6 separate regions of the Homo sapiens genome follow, and regions 1, 2, 3, 5 and 6 are each linked to region 4. Evidence: fine-mapped expression QTL. A gene starts in region 4. Each other region holds a variant in brackets. All regions are shown on one strand. Distances are from middle to middle. Region 1 overlaps PHACTR2 (phosphatase and actin regulator 2). Region 2 overlaps PHACTR2 (phosphatase and actin regulator 2). Region 3 has its middle 28 kb from the start of PHACTR2-AS1. Region 4 holds the start of PHACTR2 (phosphatase and actin regulator 2). Region 5 overlaps PHACTR2 (phosphatase and actin regulator 2). Region 6 has its middle 6.5 kb from the start of LTV1.

Evidence for each region. PIP is the estimated chance that this variant, and not a neighbour inherited with it, causes the effect.
Region 1: its variant is the best candidate, but not a certain one, in a credible set for the expression of PHACTR2 in thyroid (GTEx, PIP 0.84).
Region 2: its variant is the best candidate, but not a certain one, in a credible set for the expression of PHACTR2 in testis (GTEx, PIP 0.65).
Region 3: its variant is the best candidate, but not a certain one, in a credible set for the expression of PHACTR2 in T cells (TOPMed, PIP 0.80).
Region 5: its variant is the best candidate, but not a certain one, in a credible set for the expression of PHACTR2 in esophagus muscle (GTEx, PIP 0.76).
Region 6: its variant is the best candidate, but not a certain one, in a credible set for the expression of PHACTR2 in whole blood (TOPMed, PIP 0.54).

Annotation. Positions count from the first base shown.
Region 1 is chr6:143,769,101-143,773,191 of GRCh38, reverse strand. PHACTR2 (phosphatase and actin regulator 2) reads right to left here. Exons shown (of 13, transcript NM_001100164.2): 7 at 735-934. Among named protein-coding and RNA genes, the nearest start is that of LTV1, 72 kb to the left of the region's middle. The variant A/T (reference allele first, on the strand shown) is at 2,301.
Region 2 is chr6:143,745,535-143,749,625 of GRCh38, reverse strand. It overlaps PHACTR2 (phosphatase and actin regulator 2), which reads right to left. Exons shown (of 13, transcript NM_001100164.2): 3 at 561-641. Among named protein-coding and RNA genes, the nearest start is that of PHACTR2, 70 kb to the right of the region's middle. RefSeq lists enhancers at 1,575-2,244, 2,245-2,914, 2,915-3,585. The variant G/A (reference allele first, on the strand shown) is at 2,310.
Region 3 is chr6:143,539,378-143,543,468 of GRCh38, reverse strand. It overlaps a transcript of PHACTR2 not described here. Among named protein-coding and RNA genes, the nearest start is that of PHACTR2-AS1, 28 kb to the left of the region's middle. The variant C/T (reference allele first, on the strand shown) is at 1,562.
Region 4 is chr6:143,676,391-143,680,481 of GRCh38, reverse strand. PHACTR2 (phosphatase and actin regulator 2) reads right to left here and starts at 2,517. Exons shown (of 13, transcript NM_001100164.2): 1 at 2,273-2,517. The coding sequence starts at 2,318. RefSeq lists a silencer at 2,276-2,575 and an enhancer at 2,325-3,173.
Region 5 is chr6:143,819,451-143,823,541 of GRCh38, reverse strand. All of the region lies in intron 12 of PHACTR2 (phosphatase and actin regulator 2), which reads right to left. Among named protein-coding and RNA genes, the nearest start is that of LTV1, 22 kb to the left of the region's middle. The variant C/T (reference allele first, on the strand shown) is at 2,089.
Region 6 is chr6:143,834,813-143,838,903 of GRCh38, reverse strand. No RefSeq gene overlaps it. Among named protein-coding and RNA genes, the nearest start is that of LTV1, 6.5 kb to the left of the region's middle. The variant A/G (reference allele first, on the strand shown) is at 1,570.

The DNA of each region.
Region 1 (4,091 bases), 93 kb before region 4:
TCCCAGGCTGGAGTGCAGTGGCGCGATCTCAGCTCAGTGCAACTTCTGCCTCCTGGGTTCAAGCGATTCTCCTGCCTCAGCCTCCCGAGCAGCTGGAATTACAGGCGTGCGCTAGCATGCCCATCTGGATTTTGTATTTTTAGTAAAGATAGGGCTTCGCCATGTTGGCTAGGCTAGTCTCGAACTCCTGACCTCAAGGGATTCACCCACGTTAGCCTCCCAAAATTAGACATGAGCCACCGTGCCCAGCCTCTTAATGCTAATGAGGTATTTGGCATTCTTGACTCATTCCTCCTTCCCCTTTCTATAAACCCCAGTACAAAAGCGAGTGAAAATTTCAAACACCTCCAATGAGTAAGCCTATGAATCTGCACTGACTTTCTTTCTTCAACAACAGGCCCAGAGTGGAAGGGCTCTCTTTGGTCATAGTGAGAAAGGTCTCTGTTATTAGAAAGCTTTGATTCTCAGCACAAATACTAATATGCACATCTAGCACATCTAGCTCATCTAGCTCATCGACAAAGGCCAGATCCAGCCATGTGACATCATCTTCTGGAAAGGCCTCCCATCAAAAGCTAAACTTTAGGATATACACATTTCTAATTTGAGAAAGGAGGATGAGGGGAAAGAAAACATCAGATGTCTGGTTCCTAATGAGGCTTTTATTCTTTATAAACTGCAGCTGCTTCTGCTTATCACCCACGCTCCTCCCTGCCTCTTGAAAACAGTCTTACTTTCTCCACTGCCATCCTCATCTTCGTCTTCGTCCTCATCATCGGTGTACAAGATAGGCCCGTCCGAGTCAGAGTCATTGGCTTGGTATTCCCTGTGGCCTTCATCTTCTGAGGCACTAAAGGATTCTGAAGATTCGCCCATCAGCCCAGGAGTCAGTAGCTGAGGCACTGTCTTCCCCAGCTCCTCTTTGGTTGTGAAACTGTTAAAGGCAGAAAAGCATGGGAGTGATGTGAAGCTCAGAGCAACCCTTGGCGGCACTGACACTAAGAAAAAGAGCTCTAGTTTCATGGGCTTCCTTCAGGCTGAGGAAAGCAGACACTTGACATAGGCCAGGCTAAAGTCACTGAAATGAAACCTTAATTCTCAAGGTTTTACATTTTTCATCTGTAAAATGCAAACGCTTGGTATCTGATACATTTAGCAAACAAATAGGGTAAAACTACATTTTGCAAATTATTTTTTCCTTCAAGTGTCAGCTACAGCCTCAGCTCCTTCAGGAAGCTTTCATGGACCTTCAGTTTAATTCCTTGCCCCCACGTCTGTCCCATGGGGACCTGAAGACGATCCCGCTAGAGTGCTTAGCATACTACATCTTGACCACCCATTGCTTCTCTGCCTTCTCAATCCCACAAGTTCCTGGAAAAGTGAGACTCATTGTTTTGCATCACAGCACCCAGAAGGTAATGACGTAGAAAAGTACATCTTCTTTCATTAATATATGGCTGGGTTCGGTGGCTCACACCTGTAACTCCAGCACTTTGGAAGGCTGAAGTGGGAGAATCACTTGAGCCTAGGAGTTCAAGACCAGCCTGGGCAACATAGGGGACCTTGTCTCCACTAAAAATACAAAATATTAGCCAGCAGTGGTGGCCGGCACCTGTAGTCCCAACTACTCGGGAGGCTGAGGCAGGAGAATCGCTTGAACCCGGGAGGTGGAGGTTGCAGTGAGCCAAGATCGCGCCATTGCACTCCAGCCTGGGCAACAAGAGCAAAACTCCGTCTCAAAAATAAATAAATTAAATAAATACATAAATAAAATAAAATAAAATAAAATAATAAAAAATTAGCTGGGCATGGTGGCGCTTGCCTGTAGTCCCAGCTTGAGCCTGGGAAGGATTGCTTGAGCCTGGGAAATCGAGACTGCAGTGAGCCATGCTAGCACCACTGTACTCCAGCCTGGGTAACAGAGTGAGACCCTGTCTCAAAAAAATAAAAAAAAGCATATATATATATATATATATATATATATATATATATATATACACACATATATATATATATACATATATATATATATACATATATATATATACATATATATATATGTAAAGTACATATATGAATTAATCCTGCTTTTATCCCAATATGTAAATAGTAAAAACTCATTTATCCTATGTGTGTTTTCATTTTTAAAACTGCCTCTTGTAACATAACAGACAATGTGCAAGTTAAATACACTTTTTAGAAAAAAGGTAATATGACTCTAGCCTGGGTGACAGAGCGAGACTCCATCTCAAAAAAAAAAAAAAAAGAAAGAAAGAAAGAAAAAAGGTGATATGCAAGGA[A/T]GCAATAATTTTCTATTATTTAGCCTAGTAAAAGTCTATGATTTAAAGAGTTACTATTAATGTACAAAGATTGCCAATTTTCAAAGACTAGACTAAAAAATACATAGTAATTTACATAAAAACATCACATCAAAAATAATGTAATCTTCATTTTAAGACACAAAGATCCCCCAAATTGCTTTCTGGTAAAAAGTTCTTCCAGCAATAAACACAGATAAACTTTATCAGAATATGAGGTATTTAAAACCCTACTTCATAGTTATAAACCTGAGTGATCACTGTCAAAATTTTGTTTCTCACTTATCAGAAAAACCCAACAGACTATATTCTTGTTCTCAAACAGGGAAATAGGAAATCTCATTTTTATTGTGTAAAATATACATAACATAAAATTTGCCATTTTAACCAGTTTTAAGTGTACAGTTCACTGGCATTAGACACATTCACATTACCGTGTAACTACCACCACCAACCATCTTCAGAACTTTTTCGTCTTCCCAAATTGAAACTCTACCCATTAAACAACTCCCCATAACCATTATCTCCCAGCCATTGGCAACTACCATTCTACTTTTTGTCTCTATAATTTGACTATTCTAAGCACCTTCTCTAAGAGAAATTATACAATGTTTGTCTTTTTGTATGTAACATACTTCACTTAGCATAATGTCTTCAAGGTTCCTTCATTCATGTCGTAGCATGTGTGAGAATCTGCTTCCTTTTTAAGGCTGAATGATATTCCACTCTATGTATATAACACATTTTGTTTATCCATTCACCAATCAATACACATCTGTATGTTTTCACCTTTTGGCTATTGTGAATAATACTGCTTTGAGCACTGGTGTACAAATTCAAGTGCCTGCTTTCAATTATTTTGGCTATATACATGGAAGTAGAATTGCTGGATCACATGGTAATTCTATGTTTAATTTTTTGAAGAACCACCATACTGTTTTCCACAGTGTGAAATCTCATCTTAAATAAGAGAAGATCTATTTTTATAGGAAAAATTTTCCACAGTCTGGGTTTTTAGTTGATTGCCACTGGAAGCCATTCTTGTTTGAATTGGCTGCCATTATGGGTGATCACAGAATGTTTAAAATACATGCCAATTAATAATATGTTCTGAATAACAGAACAAATTTGAGAGATGAGTCCTTTATTTGTTGGTGTCATTGTTCACTAATTAATTATCATATTGATTATTATTCTAATCTTACTATTTGTATTTTGTTTCATGGTTTTCAAAGAGTCCAGCATACATCTACAATTTACAAGTATTCTATTGTATAAGGAGGGCAGATAACTTATAGTTCATGGAATCAAAGAAGACCATGAGTGAGTTGCCTAACCAAGGTAGCAAGTCTTGTCTAGAATCCAGACTGAAGACTCGGTCTACCTATTAAATTTTACATTTATTATACTATTATATTTTACACTTAATGAGTTATGTTATAAATTATATCTGATGTTAAATATATTCCAAATTTGTATTAATCAACTCATGACTTACCCCTCATTTTTCCCCCTCGGGTTCCTGGGCACACTGGACAATATAGTGCATTCTATACATGTTTGTGAAAATGAACTGTACAAAGTAGCCTTTTGGATATGGCCTCCAAATGGGCTTATTAGTTTTCACCTTATATTGTATCACACATATGTGTTACTGATGAAGCTGCCCATGAATGGAAGCCTACCAAATAATTAGTACCCTGCCATATGGGAAGAGAGGTAGGTATTTTTATACATAGCCACTTGTCTTCTTGAAAGTTTTGATATTTGTAT
Region 2 (4,091 bases), 69 kb before region 4:
AATGAAAAGAGAACAGTACTGCAAAATTACATGAGAGAAAGCAGAAAGCAGGTTAGTTTAGTTTGCCTATTCATGCTTTATTGATTGTACATTTCAGTGTTATTATAGAGTGCAAAGGACAAGAGGTATGTGTGCCTTCTCTCTTCTCTTTTATTGGTAGTCTTAAGAAACAAAATAGCATGAACCAAGCTAAAACTTTGCATTTACTCAAACACATGAGTTTCATGTGAATAGAAAGACTGAAGCTCAAGAATAGAGAAGAGAAGGAGCCGTAAGCATTTGTATCTCATCTGTATTGCCCTCGGATGTACCTTTGCAGAGTTTTAGGTTTAGAATGACATATGGTGATGGATTCACCAGGAAAGTCACTAGAATTCTATAATATTTCAGATTCTCTGCAGCTCACAAAGGCATTACCAATGGAAGCACGGCGCTTGGAATGCAGTAATCACCGCTTTACCTTACAAAGACCATGATCCCTTTAAATTTCAAAAGAAAACAAAAGAAAAACCAAAGAATGAAGGACCAAAATATTTAAAATGTATGATTAATTTCCTCACCTTGATCAGGCAATTCCTTAAGCACTCCCCTTCTTATCAGCTCCTCTCTACTTTGTCGTGTGGATATCTTCCTTTCTAATACTTTTAAAAAGAACAAGCACAAGTAAGAATCAAGTCATTCCTTAAGATAATTATGAAAAACATTCCAAGTAGAATTGAGCACATTTATTCTCCTCACATGAGGGCTCAAACTCGTTTTCTTAGTTGCTTAAAAAAAACACATGATCTGAGTGGAATCAACACAGCTATGACAAGAGCAAATGGCTGCAGCCCATGATCTGAAGTCCAACCGCCATCCCTGGTCTTTCAAATGGCCACCTTTGGCCTGGCGTCCAGGCATATTATTACATAGCAACTAGAGAGCATAAAGCCTGCTTCTCACGCTGAAGCTAGAAATGTTGCATTCTAAAACATATAATTCTATGGATATGCAGTGTATGAAGAAGATATGTATGCTTACATTAAAGAAAAAAACACATAAACATCAGTAAATATTCTGGGTAACCCATTTGCATTCCAGGAAAATGAACTATTTTCTAGTGTTTTCTCTCTCACTCCATCTATTACAAAAGCCCAACACATCATATTTCTATAACTCTTTCCCCTGCGTTCTCACTAATTCTAGAGAGTTCTTATATATTAGCTGACAATCCCCAGGTCTTAGGAGGATGGAGAAGGCAGTTAAGAATAATCAGCTTTCAGCCAGGAACGGTGGCTCATGCCTGTAATCCTAGCACTTTGGCGGGGGCCGAGGTGGGTGGATCACCTGAGGTCAGGAGTTTGAGACCAGCCTGGCCAACATGGCAAAACCCCATCTCCGAAAAATACAAAAATTAGCTGGTCATGGTGGTGGGCACCTGTAACCCCAGCTATTTGGGAGGCTGAGGCAGGAAAATCGCCTGAACCCAGGAGGCTGAAGTTGCAGTGAGCCAAGATCGTGCCATTGCACTCCAGCCTGGGCGACAAGAGCGAAACTCCATCTCAGAAAAAAAAAAATAATAATAATCAGTTTTCACAGACATGTAAAGCCATGGGGATCTTAACATTGATTCTTCCTTCTTCTGGAACAAATGTAAATGCCTGGTAGAACTTTGGAATGGGGCTTGGGAGCTCCGGAGCAGGATCTCAATTGTGTTCCCCTTGAGTGTGTATAGTATTAAATCCTGTGCTCTATATGTCCATGCAACTGCAAAGTCCATTCCTCACTTTCAGGGGCCAAGAAGGTGCGTAAAATTAACATGTGGTCATGTCATCTATTAATCCTGAGTCAACATTTCCCAAAGCGTGTTCTGCAGAACTCTATTTCCTCCAGACCTTCTGTTCAAAAATGCACTTTGATACAGCAGCGAAGGGCCAGATAAGGAGTCTAGGGCACTTTGAAGAGCAGGAAAGCTACACTGGTAGACAACATGCAGCTGCAGTAGCACGAGATTTCTGACGTTCCCCGATTCCTACTCCTGGGCTCATTATCTGCAAATCCTGGAACTGCTCTAGACAACATCGTTTCAACTAAACTAAAGCCATTACCCCAAACCAGGTTCTGACACATCCAAAGGGAGCAGGTGATAACACTAAGAAGACATTTGTGATAACACTAAGAACATGTTTGCTCAGGGGCTCCAGGGCCTCAAGCAAGGACACTGATAGGAGACAGGGTGGGAGGATGCGCCCTGGGCAGCCAGCTTTGTAGTAAGTGCATGAAAGTCTTCCTTAAGTGTTTGCTAATTGCATGTGCCACAGAATAGCAAC[G/A]CTTAGTCTCTTGAAGAACCTGGATTTTTTTTTCCTTTCTGATAATAGAAATTGTGTATTCCTTTTTAAATCCTGGTTGCTAGAAAGATCAGAGTAAAACTGGATATTTGACACAGATTTCATATGACAATTCGTGGATGGAATCTCTGTTTCCTCCTTCTCTAAAACCTGACTTGACTTATATTTTATGTACAATATATAAGCTCTTTACTGCACATTTTGTCAAACTTTTTTTGGATAGAATCAGAATAGAAACAAACAGGAAAATGAGTGAATGAATGAATAAATGGTCAAAAGAATGACAACGAACAGCTTTGGGTTAAAAAGGAGACATACACAGAAGGCTTCCCTCCCTTCCTTTAGATTCCTCACTGACCCCATTCTTCCTGTATCTTCCAGAAGCAAGTAACAACAGCTCACTTAAAGGTTAGTAATTTCAATGAAAAAAGTTAACCGGGCAAAGAGTCTTTTTTTTTTTTTTAAACTGGGTGTTCTATTATGTAAAAAGAGTGTTGTTATTTAAATACAGTTTCAATTTGTTCGGCCTCTTGTCAAAAAGGAGAGAACTCTTATCAACGGCAGGAAGCCAAAGAACACCCACAGTGACAGGTGGGACACTGCTGGGATTTTGCAGGTGCTTTAGAAGGACCTTGACCACTGCAGCCTCCTACGGATTGTAAAAGCCCATTCATGCTTGACTGGGCTCTGAGGGGTGGCGGGACTCTGTAGACCTCCTCCAACAGTTGTCTTGGCCTCCATTCCTGGGAACAGGCCCAGAGATTCACGGCTGTTCTGCCCTAAACTTAAGGATGAAGGTGGCAACTGCAAGAGCAAGTGCCGCTGGCCTAGGGATCGGGCCACATTCTCGCAAACCAAATGCACTGCCAATTCAGCATTCAATCACGGTGGCTGTCTTCCTAACCGGCCCTTTGCTCATAAGAAACAAAACTTTTACTGGTTTGCTGCTTCTTTAAAATTGCCCAAAACACAAAATGGCTGCCAGGAGTCCTGGATTCTAGTCCTTGAATTCCTACAACTTGTTGAGTGACCCTGGGCAGTCATTTTGAGTTCCTGGGCCTCTAATCCATTATCTGTAAAATAAGGGACACAATTCAAGGATCACTAAGGACAATTCATCCAGCTCAAATGCTGAGTGATCCTGTGTCATTAATCGAGGCTGTCTGTAATCTCTGCTCGGGCACCTTTTAAAACGTTCGTTCTTGCACTAAAAAATCATCCGATAGCCTGAAACATACCAGGTTTCTTATTCTGCCTTTCCATTATGGATCCCGGAGGATTCTTTAGTTTTAGTTTTGAGTTTTGCTTAAATTCTAACTTAGTCTCAGCTAAAAATTCCCCCTTTCTTCCTTGTAAACTAAAAATTCCCCCTCTTTCTTCCTTGTAAACTCTGGAGCTTTGAAGCAGCAGCCTTGGCTTCCTGCCAAGAATCAAAACCAACAGCTTTGTTCTTTTGCTCTACCTCCTATAAACAGGCTCTGATAGGAAAATGCCGTTGGCTATTTGTTTGGTCTTTCGCTGAGAGCGTATTTAACACACAATGCGGATACCTCTGTACAGGGCCAATGAGAACAAACTGCAGGCGACCGAGCACGGAAAGTATGTTGCTGGGGCACAACATTCCAACCACCGCTCTCACAGCAGTACAAGTATCTCATTCTTCACCTTTTAAAATATTTGCCTCTTGTTTATATAGTGCCTGCATGTTTGCAGAGCACATTCACTGGACACTTTTTCATGGGCTCAGAGGGGGTTTGCATTGCA
Region 3 (4,091 bases), 140 kb after region 4:
GCTTATACTTTATTGCACTGTGGTCTTTGGCTTATTGGCCTGTCTTTCCCCACTAAACTGTGAGTTCCTGAGGGATGTCTTTGCAACCTTTGTGTTAGCTCACTAGCCATTTGTTGATTGAAAGAAGAAATGAAAAATCAAGATATGCCCTTGCCTACAGCATCTTCATCAGTACGTAGGGGCCAGAATAAATCCACGGCTTTAATATCTGTCTCAGAGCTGCCACTGAGGTACTGACACAAACTAGAGCTTAACTAGTTTAAGTAAATTAGCTCTTCATGCATCCTCTGAAAACAAGAACAGTCATCATCATCATCATGTTATTTACTGAGCATGATGCAAGGCCTATAGCTTAGATCACCAGAGACACTGCTGTGTCTGGCCTGCCACACCCTTTCTGAGTATCCTCTCTGCTTTCAGTCTAACTCCAGAATCACAGAATCACATCTGCTCACCTTTGTATGCCCAGTGCCTGGAACAGTACCTGGCACATAGCAGTAATCAATAAAGACTAATTGAATGAATGGACGAATGGAAACTGGCCAGGCTCAGTCCCTTCTACATGGCCATGTTGGCACTGTGACTTCATGCTCCACAACTGGTTTCGGCTCCAGTGAGTATCTGATCAAAGGCAACAAATCCAGAGGCACCTATGGGGCATATGATCTCTGTCTTGCTGTATAAAGGTGGCTTCACACAATAGGTCTTTTCTAGAGAATTTGAACTATGAAATATGAAGAAATTTTCCCCAGGTAAACACAAGGCAAGAGCTAAAAGGAAACAGAGGAAGATTGCTGTCAGGTAGGTAGGACCCCTGATGTGCCATTTTAAGCAGATGGATGAGGAAACACCTATGAAGGAGAGATAATCTGTTTTGATTAGAGAATAAGAAAGCTGGTCAACAGAGAGACAAACAGAAGCTCAAGCCTGCTGAAACCATGCCAGCCTAGGAAAGGGCTAGAGAAAGAGGAATTGGTTGCCTCAATTCCTGACAACTCTCTGGTGTCAGCCCCAGGTCAGGTGCAATCTGACCTAATAAGGACCTCCTGACTTAACAGGTGAAGCCAATTTTTCAAATGTGCCAAGCTCTGATACAGGACTGTCATCAGCTGCTATGGTAACTTGGTAAGAATCAGATAGGAGATGCCCCTTCTGGAATGAAGCCTGACCGGCGGTCAGGCTCCTGGGTAGATGAGAAGCCCATGGCTTTTGTGCAAAGAAAAGGGTGCTCTCCCTGGGGGAGAAGGAAGGCACACATGTCCACACCAGGTACACAGCTTGACCTGGGCAAAGCGCAGGCTGGACCTGAGCCCACCAGCACCTGCTCCATCCAGCACCCTCTTGTACTGTCCGAGCTGGCCTGGGCAGGGTGGCCTTGCTATTCCCTGACCAGGGAGAGACAGAAAGTAAACTTAGAACCAGATGGTCTTTGTTTGGAAAAAAACCCACTCTGAGTTACACAAATGTAAAGTGAGCAGGTGTTCATTGTTCCTGGCCTAGGGCACCTCCAGCTTAGCTCGTGGCTGGGGCTCAGAAGCCTCTTGGGACCCAGACACCCTTT[C/T]GGAGCACAAAGCATCAACTCAAAGAGTTACAACCTTGGAGGTCAGTAAGAAACATAGTAGAAGCACCAGCAAGGGATAAGCAAGCACAAGCTTCCCCCAACAGCACAGGTGACCCAACAGCAGAACTGGTCTTGGACAGCAGTATCTCATGGAAGTGGCCAGGAAGCAGTGCATATGAACTGATAGTACATTGAGGTATGCGAGATTTCTCACTTCCACTCAGCACTGAACACACCAGGAATTAAAGATTTGAGAAAAAGATCCTGGATTTGCTGTTACCCCTATGCCTATATATACCAGGGCATAGGGATACTGAAGAGATGAATCACAGTAATAAAAAGATGAGATTGTACTTGCACATTAAGCTAATGAAGTGGTCCACACACCTATACTGCTTTTTTTGGAGGTGGCTTGAATGGTTCTCTGATCTATGCAGCCCAATGTGCAATGTGCAAGACTAAGCATCATCACATGAAAATAAAAACATCTTTTGGTCCTCCCTATAGCCCACACAGGTCCAGAACAGCACCTGGCACCCAGTAGGCCAACAGTCGGTACTTGCTGAATCTTTACATGGTCTATGCCCCTGGCTGTGTGTCTTCAGGTTCTTTACTTACTAAACACTGTGCTTATCAGAACAGCACATCAGAAACCACTAAAAAGTTATCAAAGCTCCTTAATACCGAACAGGATCTGTCTAAAACTTAAGAGAATACATGACCATATACTATGAGAACCTTGTTTCAAGATTTTACTTTAAAAATTGAGTTAAACATCACTTTATTTACAAAGAAATACTGGATTTTAAAAATCCAAGGCTGGGAGCAGTGGCATGCGCCTATAACACCAGCTACTCAGGAGGCTGAGGCAGCAGGATCCCTTGAGCCTCAGGGTTTGAGGCTGCAGTGCACTATGGTTGTACTGGCGAACAGCCATTGTACTCCAGCTTGGACAACACAGCAAGACTCCATCTCAAAAAAAGAAAAATAAATTCAGAACTTTTGTTGAATTCCAGAAGTGTGAGTTCAAAAACCATATGGCAAAATGAATCCACGTTTTTATAAACATAATAAAAGAGTTTATTCATAAATTCCACTGTTACTTCAATTCTATCTTTAAAAATTGCTTATTTGAAAATATTTTGTTTTCTTAACTTTTTTGTATAGATTTTGAAATATAAAACTGGCTTGGGTTTTTTTTTTCTGATAAAGCACTTGCATTCTTATGTGAAAAATTCCTCAAGCCACAAATTAAATAAAATCCCTTGAAGTCTGAGACGCTTGTCTTGACAAAAATCTAGTAATAATCTAGCATAGTCAGGGGAAGCCGATTCTCTTGGGGTACCCTCACGGTATTTATCAACACAGTGCTAGCACAGAACAGGTCTTTAAAAATATATATTTAGTATTAGACTGACTGTTTGCAGCAGTGGGCAAGATTTTAGAGGCTGAGTTCCAAGTTTTTATTATTCTTTCCTGGAAAGAAGGATGGAGGTGGAGCTGTGGGGGAGGCTGGGGTAATGATTGCAGGTAGCAAGGATGGTCTGTCGTTCTGGAGGGAGGCTGTTCTCTGACAACTCTTGGCAAGCACTCTTTCTTCCCCTTCCTCTTCTCCATTTCAGGTCACTGTCACTGCAAAAGGTGATTTCCTTTTCCCCTCAACACTCTTCTAAGGACCCACAGCAGGGAGTTAACTCATGATTAGAAATTATCCCTTAGGAAGAACATCTGACAACTAGCTGGAATCAAAAATAGGAGCAAGGAAGGCTGCTTGGGAGACTGCAGTAGTAGAAGAGAGGATGTAGCAATAGGGATGTGAGAAGGTACTAAAACAAATTCTTCAAACTTACACTTGTATCACGGTATCACAAGACATACGGCAGCAAGCCAGGGTGACATAATATGGCACAGGACAGCAGTTCTCAAACTTCGCTACTCATTAGCGTCATCTAATGGCCAGGATGCACCTGATGCCAATGAAATCAGAATCCCTAGGTGTGCGACCCAGCCACAGGTTGCTTCGTTGTTAACTCCCCAAGCAATTCCTACGTGTAGCCAAGTTTGAAAACCAGTGTGGGAGAGCAGCACTTTTCAAACTGCAAGGTGACTAAGAACAACCTGGGGATCTTATTAAAATGCAGATTCAGTTAAGCAGGCCTAGGGTGGGGCCTGAGATTCTGAGATGAGGCCACAGATGCTGGTCCGGGGCTGTTTTGGCAAGCCACACATGACCTTGCTCTAGGTGCTGCCTCTGTGTGTGCCCAGAGCTTCTGGAGAAGGGCTGGAAATTGGGCTACTATAGTGTTAGGCCAAGGAATGTTTTTACAAGGCGTGTAACCCTCTTATTGTGCCTCTGAGATAATTCAGAGATCCCAGCACAGTCATCTTGCTGATTCTCAGATCCATCCTGCATGGCTTACAGAGGCTGCAGAGGCTGTGGGGCATGCTGGAGAAATACTCTGTGTGTCAGTGAAGGACCTGCTCATTCTTTTTCTCTCTGACTCTAAGAGCAGGGAGCTCCTGATCACAT
Region 4 (4,091 bases):
AAAGGCCAAATTGAGCGATAAGTATGAATAATTAAACTCTGTGCTATTGATTCCTTTGACTTAAACAGATTTTCGCCCACTAAGCATTTAAGATGAGAATCATCTTTAATACTGTAATCCTAAGCAGCTGCTCCAGACTTAAACAACTAGTCAATGGCTAAGATCAAACAGAACAAGGATCTTCACGCCATCTGTAAAGCCAGAGTTAAACAGTTAACAAGGAGTGAACAAAATACCTGGAATAGTAGAGAGTTTGACAGTCTCAGACTCAGAAAAATACAGACATGAATATAAAACTCAGCAAACGTTATTTAATTTAAATTTTTTTTTTTTTGGTTTTCATTTGGAATCTGATGGCAAACCTTCAGGGAAACAGGGTAGCTCTAACGGATTTAGAGACACTGGATACCACGAGAAAACTGTTCTTTTACAATACCACAACTTAAGTCATAACCACTGTCATTCCTTAACTGAAAAATAAAAAACCCTGTATTTATGATGTATGGATTGGTCATTTCAATTCATACAAACTTTTAATCCGCAAAACTGAGGACCTGCAATTTAAGTATAACACCGTTCCGTGAGATATTTCTCTGAATTATCTTTCATGATCAAGCATAAATTTTTGTTTAAAACACTTTTTACTTAAGTAGATTACAGTTTCTCATTATAATCAGTCATTTTATTTGGAATTATAGCAATCCGGGTTTTTTTGCTGTACTAAGACGTAGGGAGTCTCACTTTAGGATTTTATTTGCTTCTTAGACATCATTTATATAATATTCCTTGATTTTTATTAAGGCAAAATTTGCTTTTCTAATATTCACTCGAGTAATATTTTGTGATAAAATCACTAAATTCAGGACAATACTTTCTGTATACTCTTGTATTGGAGTACAGATTTAATTCTATCTTCGCCGGTGCACAAATGTAAAAATATAACCCTTCCTTGAAATGAAAAGAAGTCTCACACCACTTTAAGGTAAGACAAAGGAAACCAAGTCTTATTTGCACAAAATAGTTTACTAAATTTAAAATCCTACTCAACCCCTCCCCGCAAATATCTCTCAAAAAGCTGTCAACATGAGGTCTTTGATTTCAGAGCTGTAGCCATGTCATTAATGGTAAAGAAGGTATATTCTGATTCTGATGTCTCTTCTTTGCAGAAGGGTCTTCTGTGGTATTAACAGAAACCTCAGCAAAGCTTGTGGTATCTCAGGGAGTGAAGCTGTGCTACCTAAAGAAACCCACTGGGTATAAAGTGGGGTGGGGGGTTGGAATGACAGAATGCTATCTAGCTAGACATCCTGAGGCAGATTAAAAAACCTTCCTCTGTACCCTGTCATTTCCTTTCAGCAAGATCCTGTTGATGTTTGCACAATTTAAAAAGTGTATCAAATATCTCAATGAGTAACATAAACGGTCCCTTCGAGTATTATTTATTTTTAATCGTTGATGGAAAAATATCAAAATAGTACCTTTTAAATTTATTTCCTTATCCAATCACAAGTAACACCACCAAACAGTTTTTTTTTTTTTTATCCCTACACTGTCGGGGAAATGCCAGACGTACCTTCCTTCCCTCTTTTTGTTTAAGAAAATGGAAAAAAGAAACTTTTAAAACAGAGCATTAGAACTCAGACACGTTACACACGTCTCCATAAAACTAACTTTAGTCCTGGAGAACTAAGTTCATGAGATATGTTTCCCTAAATGTTATAGCTGCTGTATCTACTATAAACAAAACAAGTCTCATTTGAAACAATTACGCATTTCGGGGCTAGTTATTAAGTATTCAGCGTCTGCCAGGATAAGGCGATCAGCGCTTCTACTCCGAATAACAAACCATAAATCAGTTGACAAGCTTGAAAGCATTCAGTCCTAGTCTGTTCGGAAGCCAAGCGTAAATACAGAAAAACCTGTTGGCATGTTTCTCTTGCTCTCTAAGTTTCGCGTTTTTAAAAACACTGTAATACGCAAATGGCGTTTCCCGTAAGTTTCTGGCTCCGAAATAATTTGGATAAAAAACCACAGCGAGGCATCGCGCACAGAAAAATGGAGCCTGTGCCTTTAAGGTAAAATCGGCTGGATCCCAAAAGGCATTCCTCTTTCACGACAAAGAGTTTGGCGAGCGCTACCTCTGGGGTTTCTCCGAGGGACTTGGCGGGTCCGAGCGGAACCCGACCAGACGACTAACCCTGCCTGCCCCGGGGCCCCGCCGCCAGCCCTGCGCCCGCGCGGCGGGAGCGCATCGCGTGCGCCCCGGACTCACCGCTGCCGGGCTGCGGGGACAGCGTGGACACCGAGGTCTGGCCCATGACTGGGGTCGCAGGGCCAGGTCCAGCGATCAAGCGGCTCCTTTGGTCCTTCGATCATGGGTCCGCTCCCAGCCAGACTTCCAGGCGTTCATGTCCCGGCCTGTGCCGAGCGGCCCGCCGGGTCCCCTCACCTTCTACCCCGCGCGGGTCTCCCAGCCCGGCCGGCCGCAGCCGGCGCGGCGGATCCTGCCCAGCGGATGCCTGTCATTCCTCTATGCAGATTAGCTGGGGTCAGGGGTCACGGGGGAAGAAGGGGGGTGAGGGCGATAGGGAGGGGAGGAGGGGGAAGCGGGGGGAGGGCGCAGGAGCAGGGGGTGGGGGAAGCCCCCAGCCGGCCCCGCCGCACCCGCACCCCCTCAGGGTGGTAGGGAGTTCAGGCTTTCAGACTACTCCTCTTTGACTTAAAAGGTTCAAAGTCAAATGATCCTTACGGGCTACAAGAAAAGGAATTAAAGTATTTAGTCACGGTACTTAATTTAACAAAATTTGTTTCTTAAAAGTTATTTCCTTCCTTACATTCTATTTGCAGTATTGTGGCACTCTCATGTCTTGTGCCCATTTTTTTCTCGTTTTAAAAATTATCTTCCTTTTAACAAATATAATTTTTTAAAAACGGCACTAATGGCCTCAATCAGGCTTGACAACAAATCTAAATGGTAGGTCTACGTGTGAGATCAACAAAATATACTTTTTGCTGTCTCCCACCTAAAACTCTGGAGTGCTGACCTCTCCTTTATTTCAAAAGAATTACTGTGAAATAAAGTGATTAAAATACACAAAAGGGGAAAAAAACTATAACAAACTTGAAAGGTGAATTAAACCCTTCTATAATATCCTGTTAAATCTCAATCTTCTTAAAAATATGAATACAAATAAATATTCTTCATATTTACAGTTAATGATTAATTAGTATAAGTAATCTTCATGCTATATATATATAATGTGTGTATATATATATACAGTATATGGAACATCTGTATATGGTGCATTAGATTGGATGGTGGTTACTGGATGTGTTCATTTTATGAAAATTCATTGAGATGTCTGTAATGATGTGTGCACTTTGCTGAAGGCATATATTTCATTAAAATGTAAAAAATATCAGAAAGTGCAATATATTTAGGTCATTTACCACAGCTTTCATTTTTTAATTTATCCTAGACAATCAACTCTGAACTAACATGAAAATCATTTTTTTCTAAAATTTTTATTATTAAGATCGTGCAGAGCCTTGTTTGATTTTTTTGAAAGGCACTTACTTGTCTGTTTTGTCATGGTTAATTAAGTTGCCCTATGTTTTTTCACACCCAAATAGCCCACCCACCACTGTGAGGAAGATCTTTTCCCTAAAAAAGTGTGATCCATTGTCTTCTTCCCTTTGCCTAATTCACTCTTAAGAAACACTGATTTTTTTTTTTTTAATGAAATTGAGGATTTAACCAAAATGTGAGTTCTAATTAGGACAATAAAATTAATCCTAACTACATTTCCTTATAAATACAAAAATGTGTTTTGGAAACACATCCCACCTGGGGCGCTAAGCGATGAGAGTAAGCAATTATAATGGCTGGCTCCTCCAGCTCTTTGCTTTGAGTTGCCGTAAGAAAAAAACAAACAAACAAAAGTGGTTAAAGGTAAGTTAAGAGGGAGAATGTTTCACTCTTCCTTTTGACAGTCTTTCTGATAAAGGGAGGTCACTGATCAGAGGAAATATACAGTACCTTTTGCACATTCAAAATATGTAACTGTAATAATTTTTAAATACTGATAAAA
Region 5 (4,091 bases), 140 kb before region 4:
AATTTCTGTCATAACAAAATACTGTTACAAATATTATTAAGGAAAGCATATATAAACGCTTTCCTTATATATATGTTTACATATAAGCATATAAGGAAACCTTATATAAAAGATGCTGGTTATAGTATTCAAGTTACACAGCAACCAAGACAGAAAACATCACTATTCTTGAGCATCGTGCTCTAACCTTTATCAAGCAGAGGGAGATGTTTCACAAAGGGATTTTGGTACACCTCGTCTGTATTATAAAAGCACAGTAACAAATAGACACTTTTTCATTAGCTTCAGCCTCTCATCATCTCCTGCTGACGACTCCAAATCTACTTTCTACACTTGAATTTCCAAAAGCCCACAGGGCGCTTCCCCCCAGATGTTCCACAGGTATATACTAAGCATGTCCACAACTATACAAAGCTTTCCTTGTTAACCTGCCTTTGCACTTTGTCTTATTTAATATTCTATCTTTAAAAATATTTTTGGTCTAGAAACCTCAGATTAGCAATTCATTTCTCTCCCTCATCCAGCATTTCCTATTAGTCACCAAGTCCTGCCTCAACTGCCTGTCTTGGAATCATTAAAGTTCCATCTTTTGCTGGCACTACTTTTACGGTATGCTTGTTAGCCAGCCAGCTGGCTTCCTTTCCCTCCTTGTGAGTTCCTGAACATTCCTTGCATTTTTGTAGCCCGGTGCTTTTGAACATGCTGTTCACTAATACTGCAATTCCTTCCCTTCATTTCCTATCTATGTTTTCATTTTCAAGATCAAGGTCAAAAGTTATCTTCTCCATAAAGCCTTAAGTGATCAAGCTCTTCAGCCTACTTCTGCAATTCCACATTTATGCAACTCTGCCTAGCATTTCACTCTGTCTTCTACAGTCGAATGCTCATCTGCTCTGGTCAGCCAGTCTCCTAATTGGTTTCCCTGTCCCAGGCTCTCTCCATCAAATCTATGCTCCTCACTGTTGCTCACACTATCCTTAAAAATACTGGTTCCATCATTTCAGTTCTTGGGGTTTTTAAAATCTTTTTTTATTTTTAATTAGATATGGGGGTCTCGCTATGTTACCTAGGCTGGTCTTGAACTCCTGGTCTCAAGCGATTTGCCCACCTTTGCCTTCCACAGTGCTGTGATTACAGGTACGAGCCACTGCGCCCAACCCAGTTCTTTCTCAAAAGGATCGTATTGTTCCCCATTACCTACAAAATAAAATTTAAGCTGGGCATGGTAGCATACACCTGTAATCCCAGCTGCTTGGGAGGTTGAGGTGGGAGGACAGCCTTGAGTCCAGGAGTTCAAGACAAGTCTGGGCACATAGTAAGACCCTGTCCCTTAACAAAATTAAAATAAGAAAGCCAACAAAATAAAATTTAAAGTTCCTGGAGTAGCAAGTAAGGCTTTTCAGAAAGTGGCCCAACTCATGGTTCTAGCTATATCTCTATCACTGCTTCCAAATACTCTCCATTTCAATCACTTGCCCCAAAAAGGCTTTTGCGCTAATGCCCTTTCCTCTACCTACTTTTTGCAGGGTGGGTTGGGGGGAGCTCCAGAGGGGGACAGGGTTTCACTCCTATTGCCCAGGCTGGAGTGCAGTGGTGCGATCTCAGCTCACTGCAGCTTCAACCTCCTGGGCTCAGGTGATTCTCCCACCTCAGCATCCAAGTAGCTGAAACTACAAGCATGCACCACCATGCCCAGCTAATATTTGTATTTTTAGTAGAAATGGGGTTTTGCTATGTTGCTCAGGCTGTTCTCAAACTCCTGCACTCAAGCAATCTGTCCTCGGCCTCCCAGCGTGCTGCGATTACAGGTTTGATCCACCACACCTGGCCTACTCTTTCTTCTACCTTTATCTCTCTTACCATCTGCGCTTTATGCAGTCTCACTCTGTGAGTTCTCCAAACTCTTTTCTCCACTGCTCAGGGAAGCACTAATTGCTCTCTTTCCTGTGTTCCCATAACCTTTGGCTTATGCCAGTTATTGCTTACATTATATAATCTTTGGATACATGTGCCTTTGCTATTGGATCATGAGAAGCTGAGGAAGGAAACTTTCTTATCCATTTTTACATACTCATTGAATACAATCTC[C/T]GGCACGTGATAGTACTTACTAAACGTCACTGTGTTGAATACAAGCATTACAAAATGAAAAACTAAAAAATAAGAGCAGGTGAAATGAGATGGGCCACGAATTGATAACTGAGGAGCTGCTAGTTGGATACGAGGGACTTATATTACTTCTGTGTTTGACAAAAGTCAAAAGAAAAATAAGATATACCAAGCTTTACAAAACTGGTAGGCAATTTATTACTAAAGCAGGAATGTGTCCACTTTGAGTTCTGTTCTTAGTCTATCCCTGACTGTAACCTTGGGCAGATGTGAGGACCGCCATGCCTGCATTTGATACACAGAGGCAACATCACTCTTTCACTTTTTCGAGGGCCAGGTCAAGGGCCCTGCTGCCTCGTGCAGCCTCAGGACATTGTTCCCTGCATCCCAGCCACTTTGGCTCCAGCCTTGGCGCAAAGGGCCCCAGATACAGCTCAGGCTTCTGCTTCAGAGGGTGCAAGCTGAAAGCCTTGACAGCTTCTACATGATGTTAAGCCTGCAGATGCACAGAATGCAAAAGTGATGGAAGCTTCAGACACTCCACCTAGATTTCAGGGGATACATGGAAAAGCCTGGGTGTCCAGGCAGAAGCCTACTGGAAGGGCACAGCCCCCACAGAGAACCTCTACTAGGGCAGTGTGGAAGGGAAATGAGGAGTTGGGGATTCCACAAAGGGTCTCTGCTGGGGCATTGCCTAGTGGAACTGTGAAAAGGAAGTCACTGTCCTCCAGACCCCAGAATGGTAGATCCACTGGCAGCTTGCACCCTGTGCCTGGAAAAGCCACAGACATTCAACGCCAGCCTGTGAGATCAGCCTGGGGGCTGCACCTTGCAAATCCACAGGGGTAGAGCTGCCCACTTACACCAGAGTACCCAGGACATGGGACATGGAGTCAGAGGAGATTATTTTGGAGCTTTATGATTTAACAACTGCCTTGTTGGGTTTTGAACTTGCATGGGGCCTGTAGCCACCTTCTTTTGTCTGATTTCTCCCTTTGGGAACGGGAATGTTTACCCAGTATAGATCTCCACCATATCTTGGAAATAACTTACTTGTTTTTTATTTTACAGGATCATAGGTGGAAAGGATTTGCCTTTTTTCAGATGAGATTTTGAACTTTTGAGTTAATGCTGGAATGAATTAAGACTTTGGGGGACTTTTGGGAAAGCATTTTGAAATGTGAGAAGGACATGAGATTTGGGAGCAGCCAGGGTCAAAATGATACAGTTTGGATATTTGTCCCTGCCAAATCTCATGTTGGAATATAATCCCCAATGCTGGAGGTGGGGCTGGGAGGTGTTTGGGTCCTGGGGGTGGATCCCTATGGCTTGGTACTGTCTTTGTGATGGTGAGTGACTTCTCACGAGGTCTGGTTTAAAAGTGTGGGGCACTTCTCCTCCACTCTTTCTCCCATTCTTGCCATGTGATGTGCCTGCTCCCCCTTCGCTTTCTGCCGTGATTGGAGGCTTTCTGAGGCCTCCCCAGAAGCAGATGCTGCTATGCTTCCTGTACAGCCTGCAGAACTGTGAGCCAATTAAACCTGTTTTCTTATAAATTACCTAGTCTCAGGTATTTCTTTATAGCAGTCAAGAATGGCCTAATACAGTCTGTGAGGGTGTTTTCAGGGACTGGCTTGTGAGTCTGAGTGGACTAGGTAGGGAAGATCTTCCCTCAGTGTCGGTGGCCACAGCCAATCTGCCAGAGAGCCAGAGAGGACAAAAACAGAGAAAAGGAGACTATGTCAATCTATCTACTGGAGCTGGGATACATGCTCTTCCTCTCTTGTCCTTGAACAACAACTCCAGGCTCCCCACCCTTTGTACTCCAGAACTTACACCAGTACTCCCCACTGCCTCGAGCTCTCAGGCCTCCAGCCTTGGACTGAGCCAGGCTACCAGCATCTCAGGGTCTCCAGGTTGCCGACAGCCTGTTCTGGGACTTCTCAGCATCCATTATCATGTGAGCCAATTGCCCTAATAAATCC
Region 6 (4,091 bases), 160 kb before region 4:
TGGGGATCATTCCGAATGTTCTCACTGTATCCTGTACACACTACTCTACTCAGTTATGCTGAATTGTGAATTCTTATTTTCATCTATCTCTAGAACCAGACTGCAGTCACCTACTCAAAAGCAAGGATCCTTGTCTTGCTGACTTGAACGTCTTTAGGGCCTAGCATAGTAAAGGCTCAATAATAATTGCACTGTTCCAAGTATTTTACCTACATTTACTCATTAAATCCTTATAGCAGATTTAAGTAGACATGCAATTACCCTTTTCTACTCAGCAGAGATTACAGAACAGAAAGTTAAGTGACTTTTGCCCCAGGGTACAAAGTCCATAAGTGAGGAAGCCAGAATGTGAACTCAGTTGTAGCTTCGGAGTCACACCCTACCATTACAGTACTGTACACCCCGTTTCAGAAAACCACCTTGTTACAAAATACTCCAACATATAACATGAGCTTATATGTGTCAGAGACTGTTCCGAGTGCTGTCTTAATGTAGAAAAATGTTATTCGCCTCCAGTGAAAGCAAAAATAATTGAAATATTATAGTAATGATAATAAATTCAAGCAATACTTCTACTCTTTTAGTATGCTCTAATTACTGGTGTCCATGTTAAAGTGATTAAACAGAATTTCTGGCTTAGTCTAGGCTTTGAATAAGTTTTTAAAAATTTTTTATATGGAACTAAGCCATTGAAATTATGGTTTTATTCGCATTCATATCACATTCACTGGTTCTCCCTCTTCCGTCAACATCACTCAAGGAGTCCCAAGCACCAGGAAGCCAATGTACACAGAAGTGCCGAGAAAACTAATTAGAACCTGAAGCAGTAACTTCTAGGAGTTATAAATTACATGTTTGAAAATCCTAATAAAGCTTATGGAGGTACTTATTTTATTTTTGTGTTTTGAGATGGAATCTTGCTCTGTTGCCCAGGCTGGAGTGCAGTTACATGATCTCGGCTCACTGCAACCTCCGCCTCCCTGGCTCAAGCGATTTTTGTGCCTCAGTCCCTCAAGTAGCTGGGACTACAAGTGTCCACCACCACACCTGGCTAATTTTTGTATTTTTAGTAAAGATGGGATGTCACCATATTGGCCAGGCTGGTCTCAGACTCCTGATCTCAAGTGATCTCCCCAACTCAGCTTCCCAAAGTGCTGTGATTACAGGTGTGAGCCACCGCACCCAGCCGGTACTTAGTTTATAAAAAGGAAAAGTGCAGCAAAATGGATGTACCAGGATGTTCAATGTAACGCTGCTGGTAAAAATAAAACAATTAAAATTTCATTAGTGAGCCCGTTGTGGTGCCCAGGAGTTTGAGTCCAGCCTAGGCAACATAGCAAGACTCTATATCTTAAAAAAAGAAAAATTTCGTTAGTAAAGGATTAATTAAAACAAACAAACAAACCAACCAACCATTCATACAACGAGCTACTGTGATGCTGGTTTAATTTAGATCAAGTTTTGTGTTTTTGAGATGGGGTCTTGCTATGTTGCCCAAGCTGGTTTCAAGCTCCTGGCCTCAATTGATCCTCTTGCCTCAGCCTCCCAAGTAGCTGGGACTATAAGCAC[A/G]TCACTGTGCCTGGCTTCTTTTTGTTAAAAATGTATGAAAAAAGAAAAATATGTTACAAAGAAATATCATAGTGCAGCCAGGCACGGTGGCTCACGCCTGTAATCCCAGCACTTTGGGAGGCCGAGGCGGGTGGATCACGAGGTCAGGAGATCGAGACCATCCTGGCTAACATGGTGAAACCCCGTCTCTACTGAAAACACAAAAAAATTAGCCAGGCGTGGTGGCGGGCGCCTGTAATCCCAGCTACTTGGGAGGCTGAGGCAGAAGAATGGTGTGAACCTGGGAGGCGGAGCTTGCAGTGAGCCGAGACTGCGCCAACGTGCTCCAGCCTGGGCAGCAGAGCAAGACTCTGTCTCAAAAAAAAAAAAAAAAAAGAAATATCATAGTGCAAGTGTAAAAAAAATCTGGGAGACTATGCACCAAATTGTCAACAACGATTATTCACAAAGAGCTGGGATGGGATTGCAGGGAACTTTCAGTGTCTATATGAGATATTTCTTCAATGTTTATGTGATTAGAGTGAAGACTTAAAGTATTACATTTGGTTTTATATGTATATATAAAGTAGCAATACTTAAAAATAAAAGGAAAGAGGCACTAATATAATTTGGTTCAATAAATATTGTTGAACGATAATGCTCTTCATAACTGGGGCTCATCCCGAATGTTCTCACTGTATCCTGTGATCACACTACCCTGCTCAGTTATGCTAAGTTGTAAATTCTTATTTTCATCTGTCTCTAGAACTAGACTTCAGTCACCTACTCAAAAGCAAGGATCTTTGTCTTGCTGACTTGACTTCTTCAGGGCCTAGCATATTGAAGGCTCAATAATAATCGCACTGTTCAAAGTGCTTTACATACATTTACCCATTAAATCCTTATAGCAGGATTTAATGTCATGGCTCTCATATATAAAGTGAGCACATGTTAAAGATCTTATTTTACACATGATTAATGAAGGAACCAGTAAGATGTTACAATTAGTTCAAAGGACAATCCAAAGAACAGAAACATTTATAGAGCAGGAATATTGTGAAGAATGTGCAAATGGAGACACAACTTACTTCTTCCACGATGAGGGAGGGAAGTGAGTTGAAATCTCTACTGGACAGAATTTATGTAGATGTTTAGAGACAAGAATTGTTTTGCATGACTGTCAGCTTTCTGAAATTTACAATGTTGTAAAATAGCTCAAAGATAAGGAGAGGCACAGAACCCTCATAAAATCAGAATCAAAAGGTGTGCTTGTCTCTACAATGCATCATTTCTCACGAAGCACAAATTTTCCCCTACAATATTAACTGATGACAGTAGTATGCATTGTATACTAGCTGGAAGTAGTCTCTGGCATTTGTTTCATTCGTATTATGCAACTCGGGCTAAATGGACCTCAGTTTACTTACCTGAATGTAAAATGGGAATGATATTAATACGTACCTTCCAGAGTTGTTGTTGGATTAAATGAGAGGATGGGTATGAAGTACTTGGACCTGTGCTTGGCTTCTAGTAAGCATTTGATGAACGTGAGCTACTGTCGTTTTCTCAGCTGAATGTAGTTATTCACCTCACTGCATTGTACTTCAGGACGATCGTTTCCTGAAACAGGACCTTCAGTATCTAGGATGCGTCAGGGGGCACGAGCTTTGCTTCAAATCAGGTTCACTTCATGAGAATCTGTTTGCTTGCACATTGAACCAACGTGCAAGCAATATAAGGCATTTTTAAATATAATTTTTGCTTTACAACTTACCCCCCTACATAATGTAGTATTCCATTTTATTTAAAGTTAAGCTATCCCATAAAACTCATTAAAATTAAGACAAACATCCTAAGCACTTAGATGATGAATAAATGATTTGATTTTGCAGCCTTGGAGACAAAACCCGGCAATGAGAGAATAGTTTATTAGATTTTTATTGTAGTAATTTCTTCATGGTCTTAAGCTACATTGTCTGTTGAAGAGGTTTATCCACTTCCACAGCTTCCATTACACGTGCTGCTGATTCTCAGCTTCCTATCTGTAGCCCAGACTTTTTTCCTGACTTTCAGACTCATATATCCAACTGACTACTGTACATCTATCCACATGTGGACGTCCTAACAGAAGGCAATTCAAACAAATTGAATTGCATTTCCAAATTTGAATGCCTCCCCTTTCTGTACTTCCTATGCTCTCTTGCTCTTCCCTGCCCTCCAATCTAGCCTCACATCAGCCTCAGCGCTGCTGTTTTCTATTTCAGCAAGTGGCATCACCACCATCCGCTCAAGCCAGTCACATGATAGGTATAATCTTAACTTTTCCATCTCCTCCATTTACCATATGGAACAATCATTTCCACTTCATAACTGTCCTTTGAGTCTGTTTATGTCTCTTCATTCCAATAGTTAATACCTTGTTTGGGGCCACCATCACCTCCCAACAAGATTATGGCAGTAGTAATGGCCACCATGCTTCCAATATTGCTTCCTCCGATCTAATCCATTCCTTCAATCCAATCCACTGTGGCCAGGATGATTAG